Linked DNA regions of Homo sapiens. The protein of the gene in region 1 purifies or fractionates together with the protein of each later gene. This does not show direct contact. Each region holds a gene or a part of one and is shown in the gene's direction. Other genes may lie near its edges.

Evidence for each region.
Region 2: the proteins of SLC35F6 (region 1) and ECE1 purify together in Homo sapiens (co-immunoprecipitation; one large-scale study listed by IntAct). This does not show direct contact.

Annotation. Positions count from the first base shown.
Region 1 is NC_000002.12:26,774,284-26,777,783, forward strand, and holds part of SLC35F6 (solute carrier family 35 member F6 precursor), read left to right. Parts: coding exon 1-40; intron 41-760; coding exon 761-932; intron 933-1,180; coding exon 1,181-1,393; intron 1,394-2,088; coding exon 2,089-2,199; intron 2,200-3,500. UniProt on the Homo sapiens protein: Involved in the maintenance of mitochondrial membrane potential in pancreatic ductal adenocarcinoma (PDAC) cells. Promotes pancreatic ductal adenocarcinoma (PDAC) cell growth. May play a role as a nucleotide-sugar transporter.
Region 2 is NC_000001.11:21,283,964-21,287,463, reverse strand, and holds part of ECE1 (endothelin-converting enzyme 1), read left to right. Parts: intron 1-3,500. UniProt on the Homo sapiens protein: Converts big endothelin-1 to endothelin-1.

The DNA of each region.
Region 1 (3,500 bases):
AGGGAGCAAGGAGCACAGCTTCCAGCATCCCTTCCTCCAGGTATCTGGCCCTGTCCCTCCTACCTCCTGTCTCCCGGGCCTCAGACCAGGCGCCACCCCCGGCCATGAGGCCAGGCTGTTTCCTGACTTAGGAGTGGAGGTGTCTCCTGCTCCCAGAAGAGCCATCCACTTCTCTCTTTCCCTCCCCAGAGCAGAATCCAAGGTTTAGAATAGGGCAAAGAGCACCATCCTCTGCGAAAGTCCTGGCAAGTGGTCATGTCCTCACCACATCCAAGTCAGGACACGTGGAAAACATCAGCCCTAGTGACAAAAGTCAGCTCTCTATCCACTGGGAGCCCAGACCCCAATTGGGACAGGGCAGACACCATAAATGGAAGACACTGTTCGTTGAACTGAGAATCAGGAGACTCAAATGTCAGCCCCAGCTCTACCAGCAACTTGCTTTGTGGCCTTACATAAGTCTTTGAGCCTCTCTTGGGTCTAGGCTTCTCCACCTGCGATTTGACTAGGGGTTGGCCTAGATGGATGGTTTTCAGACAGGGCTCTGCACAGCCTTAGGGTTCATCAGGATGTATGGGGGCTTTGGGGCAGACCTAGGAGGCTGTCTCTAGCCTCCATGGCAGCTCTGCATTTGTCTATTTTACATATTGGGGTTCTGGGTAAGCTCTTGTTTGACAAAAGTTTGCATTAAAAAAAATAGTTAAAGATGATCCCCGAGATCCCTTCCAGCTCTGAAGTCCTCGGGTTTTCATCCCTGCAGGCAGTGGGCATGTTCCTGGGAGAATTCTCCTGCCTGGCTGCCTTCTACCTCCTCCGATGCAGAGCTGCAGGGCAATCAGACTCCAGCGTAGACCCCCAGCAGCCCTTCAACCCTCTTCTTTTCCTGCCCCCAGCGCTCTGTGACATGACAGGGACCAGCCTCATGTATGTGGGTGAGTAACCAGGCCAGGCTGAGAAGGGCTCAGGGGAAGCTGTGGCTGAAGGGGCTACTGGTGAAACAGCCCTATCCCACCCACCTCCACTTCATCCCACCATTCCCCCAGACTTCACACGCACAGGCACACAGGCAGGACTGATCGAGCGCTTACTATGAGCTTGGCATGTCTATCACCAAAGACCCCTTAGTGACAGATGGCCTTCGCCTTGGGAAGCTAACTGTAATTTGTTTCTCCTTTCCTAGCTCTGAACATGACCAGTGCCTCCAGCTTCCAGATGCTGCGGGGTGCAGTGATCATATTCACTGGCCTGTTCTCGGTGGCCTTCCTGGGCCGGAGGCTGGTGCTGAGCCAGTGGCTGGGCATCCTAGCCACCATCGCGGGGCTGGTGGTCGTGGGCCTGGCTGACCTCCTGAGCAAGCACGACAGTCAGCACAAGCTCAGCGAAGTGATCACAGGTGCGGCCAGGGGCAGGGACACGGGGCTGCCCTATCCTGCCCTGTCCTCCTTGGGAGCCCAGCACAGACTCATACAAGCTCTGCCATGTGCCATATACCAAGCCCTGGGTGAGGTGGGTAGCTCTGGAGGTGATGGATAGAATGTAGGGAAGACTGCAAAGGGATGTGGCTCCACCAAGGATGAGTGGCAGGCCGGGCAGGGCGAGGGGCTGGCTTGTCCTTTGATACAGATGCAGACATGCAAACTACTGGATTTGGGAGTGGAAAGGAACAGGTGCTTACCAAGTGCCCAGCCTGGTGCTGAGCACTGTGTGTTCATCATCACAGTGACTCCCACAGGCCCCAAACGGATGCATCACAGCCCATTTTACAATGAAATGACTGTCCTGGGTCACTTAGGGTCAGGATCAACCAAGAAATGTCTATCTCAAAGCCTGTTGCTTCTTGAAAGACCTGCGTCATACCCCGTGGGGCAGCTCTTAGACACAGGCAGGCCTCTGGGGCCTTAGCCTGGCACTGCTGGCATGCCCCTCAGGAACCAGGGAATCAGGGACAGGCAGTGGTGACTGTGCCTATGAACTATAGGGGGCCCTGCAGAGGTCAGGGGCTGGCATGTTTGGTCGCTGTGGCCATGCTCTCCTGGCCCCCAGCCCCAGTGCAGCCCTGTTCTCATCTGGGTCCCTCCTTCCCCACAGGGGACCTGTTGATCATCATGGCCCAGATCATCGTTGCCATCCAGATGGTGCTAGAGGAGAAGTTCGTCTACAAACACAATGTGCACCCACTGCGGGCAGTTGGCACTGAGGGTGTGTGTGGGCACAGGGGCCTGGAAGGAGTGGGGTAGAAGGGAGCCTGGGGAGCTGAGCACAGGACAAGGTGCCAGGGTTCACTTGTGGGGGGTGAACTTCCTGCCCCGCCTTGCCTTCCAGATGTGTTTTGACAAGTCTTCTGACACCTGCTGTGTCAGGAACTAGAGGAGACCAAGGACAGAGATGAATGAGATGCAAGCCCTTCAGAGGAGGTGACCAGCAGGAAGAAAGGGCAGTCAGTGAATTCAAGTTTGGACCACTTGTGCTCAACTGATGTCTCATTGGCCATGCCTATCTGAGTCTCTCAGGGCAGGGAGGGTGGCATTCGAGCTGCAAATTTCAACAGGCAGTAGTAGGAGCAGCTCCAAACAGAGCAAAGGCACAGGGGACTGGATGTGAATTTGAAAACCAGTGAGGAATAATTTTGAGTGTGGCCAGGTGCGGTGGCTCATACCTGTAATCCCAGCACTTTTGAGAGACCAAAGCGGGTGGATCACTTGAGGTCAGGAGTTTGAAACCAGCCTGCCCAACATGGCAAAACCGTCTCTACAAAAAATACAAAAATTAGCTGGGCGTGGTGGCGCATGCCTGTAGTCCCAGCTACTCAGGAGACTGAGACAGGAGAATCGCCTGAACTGGGGGAGCAGAGGCTGCAGCAAGCCGAGATTGCGCCACCGCACTCCAGCCTGGGCAACAGAACGAGACTCCATCTCAAAAAATAATAATTTGAGTGCAGTATAGGTTTGATGTTGGGGAAATAATCAGGAATTAAGTAGGTCAGGGTCATGTCATTAGAGAACTTTACCATCAGGCAAGTAGATTTAGACTTTAAATGACGGAGGAATCACTGAAAGTTTTTGAGCAGGGAAGTAAGTATCAAAATTATGAGATTAGCAAGATACAGCTGCGCTTTCAAAGAATGTCCTGGGGGCTAGTGCCTGTTGGGGAGCAGCTCTTGTCTGGCCCCCGGTGAGCTAAGGGACTTAGGCAGAATGTGAATTAGCTATATCACTGAGCATGCAGTCTATTTCCACTCATTTCTGTTTTCTAGCAAGACCTTAATGAGTGAAGCAGTGCATGGACTTACCTTCTGGCGCAAGCTCCTTGTCACAGACCAGTAACACACTGAACTAGAAAGCTGTGTTTTTCCAAACTTGTGAAAATAATGTAGTCAGTTGCAGCTGGCAGTTCTTTTTTTAAATGAATAGAATTTTTAAATATCAGAGCATTGTATACTGTAAGGGTAATGTTTTTATGAGTGTGTGTGTGTGTGTGTGTCCATGAACCTGTGCACACGT
Region 2 (3,500 bases), on another chromosome or scaffold:
ACCTCCGCCTCCCAGGTTCAAGCAATTCTCCTGCCTCAGCCTCCGGAGTAGCTGGGATTACAGGCGCACGTCACCACGCTCGGCTAATACTTGTATTTTCAGTAGAGACAAGGTTTTGCCATGTTGGCCAGGCTGGTCTCGAACTCCTGCCCTCAGGTGATCTGCCTGCCTCGGCCTCCCAAAGTGCTGGGATTGCAGGCATGAGCCACCACATCCAGCCTGTGCTCTCAATTTTAGACTTTTTAAAACAGACCCTTCATCCCAAATCTTTTCTCTTGATGGACAGCTAAAAAATAAGCTATTTGATTTTTCAAGATTTTGAAGTCCATTCGTTTTAGGAAGTCCCAAGTGATCAACACCAATAACTAATAAATGAACACTTCCATTTTTCAGCCAAACTTGACACATTTGTTACTTTATTACTTGCCACATTTATTTATTTTTTATTATTGGACCTGCTGGCCAATGTTGAATTTAACCAGAGCAAAATTCTACCTGTACCTCACCTGAAAGGGTTTTTCTTTTTCTTTTTTTTTTTTCTTTTTTTTGAGACAAGGTCTCACTCTGTTGGCCAGGCTGGAGTGCAGTGGCGCAATCTGGGCTTACTAGCAGCCTTGACCTGTGATTCTCTCACCTCAGCCTCCCAAATAGCTGGAACTACAGGCATGTGCCACCATGCCTGGCTAATTTTTTGTATTTTTAGTAGAGATGGGGTTTTGCCATGTTGCCCAGGCTGGTCTCGAACTCCTGGCCTCAAGTGATCCTCCTGCCTCAGCCTCCCAAAGGGCTGGGATTACAGCCACCGTGCCTAACCTGTTCTTTTTCTTTATCCCATATTTTAGGCACAGATTACTTGCAGTCTACTAAAGTGAGTCACTCTGAACCAAGCACAGAATTCAAAGGAAGCTGGCTCTAACTTGGAGCCCCAGCTCTGTCTCTCCTGCGCTGTGAGACCTGAAAGCAACTCACTTCCACAGCTTTCTTTGTAAAATGGGGTTAATATTATTAGCCCACCTCTCAGAGCTGTTGCAAAGGCTCAGTGGGACAGTATGAGGGAAAGCATTTTGGATAATGCTTAGAAAATGGATTTGGTTATTAGGTTATTACAAGGATTATTACAGAAACTCACTATGAGTGACATGATATAATAATATACATCTAAATATGCTAGCTTTTGCTCTGAAGCCTCTTGCTCTGCCAAAGCCAGCTGCCTGATCTTCCCACACCTGAACATACACCATTTTCAGCGGCAGGAAGGGATATAGCTGAAGTTACACCTGCAGCCTGAACTGAGGAGCAGATGGCCATGTCTACCAAAACCTTTGAAATTCATTCAATTACTTCTAAAAATCTTTTTTTGTTGTTGTTAAGAAAAAAAGAAAGGTGAGATATTAAATTCTTAGTTATAGTTTTCTCATTTTTTTCCCACCTTGCACAGGGCTCTCTTCTCTTCTCTTTTTTTTTTTTTTTTTTGAGACAGAGTCTTGCTTGTTGTCCAGGCTGTAGTGCAGTGGCACAATCTCAGCTCACTGCAACCTCCACCTCCTGGGTTCAAGCAATTCTCCCACCTCAGCCTCCCCAGTAGCTGGGATTACAGGCGTGCGCCACCATGCGTGACTAATTTTTGTATTTTTAGTAGAGATGGAGTTTTACCATGTTGGCCAGCCTGGCCTCAAACTCCCGACCTCAGGTGATCCACCTGCCTCGGCCTTCCAAAGTGCTGGGATTGCAGGCATGAGCCACTGTGCCCAGCCTTTTTTTTTTTTTTTTTTTTGAGGCAGGGTCTTGCTCTGTTGCCCAGGCTGGAGTGCAGTGGCGTGATCATGGCTCACTGCAGCCTTGAATTCCTGGGCTCAAGCGATCCTCTCACATTGGCCTCCCAGAGTGCTGGGATTACAGATATGAGCCGTCATGCCTGGCCAAAGCTGTCTTTCCAGGGTGATTTCAGGGACAAGCCCGCTCAATACTTTAAAAAGACATGTCTGTTTACCTGGAGTTGTTATCAACTCTGTTTGCCTATTATATAGCCTTGAGGTTTGAGAGTCTGAGAAGTCACACCTGGGACCTCAATCAGCCTCCTCATTTTAGAGATGGGAGACTGAGGCCCAGAGACTGCCCAGCAACACACAGTGGGATATTTGACTTCTCAGGGTTACCATCTTTCTCCCATGCTGTGGGGAGCTGGGTGTTCCTTCTGGGAAGCGATGAAAGTTGGAAAGTACTTGTAAATATTAGCCTTTGATTCTTGCTAAGATGTGAGGAGTGCCCTCCCCTACAACGGATCATATTTTAAGCTGTTACCAGTCATTTAAAGTCAGGCATCTGGGTGGGGTAGCAGACAAGGCTCAGGCAGAGACAAGAGGACACAAGGACTTGAGAATTTTGCTCTGGACTGACCCCATTGCCTCAGCCAGAAGGCCACCTCATGGAAACTTTACTGGAAGAAACTTCCCCAAACTGACTTTGGGGAACTTTCGGAGGCAGGGTTCCTCGCAGGCTGGGCTGTCACAGTCGACTTGCTCTCAAAGGCTTACTCCAGGGAGCCTGGTGCCCCTGCCAGCGCTCCCAGGTGGCTGGGTTTCTGGGCTGCAGAGGGGTGGGATCCCTGCCAGACCCTTGCCCAGACCACTCCCATTGCTGCTTCGTGCAGCCCAGGTTGCTGGGTTCTGCCTTCCCTTCCGACCTGACTCTGAAAACCTGGCTTCACCTGGCTCCCCACCCTTTCTGCTCCCGGCTTGTCTCGTGGGCCCCAGGCAGCAGGCCCCATCCTCACCTGCAGAACTTGTTCTTGCTGTAAGCCTAGGTGAGCCAAGCACTCACTTCTGTAACCAAATATGTGTCCCGGATTAGGGCTTTGTTCCCTTGGCTGTGGAAACCCTGGGAACTCCTGGCTGGATAGCGCTGCTCTTTTTCCCTTACTCTAGCTCTCTCGCTCTTTCTGTTTCTCTGGCTCTCTCATTTCTTTGTCTCATTCTCCACCTCTCTCTTTTGAGGGCACCCCCTCCTTCTCATTCTCTTTCTGCCTCCCACGACAATAAGTAGGAAATTAAGCCCACCAGCGAGCTGAGCATCTGCAGTGATTCTGCATCTTCCAGGCATCAGCGCTGCCTCTTAGCGGATGGCCATTTCACAGTCCCCTCTCCTGAGATGGACTGGGCTGCCTGCCACCAATCCTCCTACCCTCCAAGCTGCTTAGGCCAGTCTCCCATGCTTGACGGGACCTCATTTCCAAAAGAAACGTAAGAAACCAGTCACATCTCCCCATGCTGTGACCTCATCTCACGGATCCCCTCCACAGTCCCATGAAGGAGGCTGGGCAGGTGCGACAGGGATGCAAAGAAGAGACTCAGCCGAGGCCAGCGGCCATTGGAAGCAGATCGGTGCCCTGACTCACGGCCCAGCCCTTTCCATTGCACCCAGGAATTGGCCACCCTGCCCTGGAGAGGCCTCCTGATCCTGGCCTAGTACCTCTAGGTGACTTCTCCTGCCCCAGGGTGAGG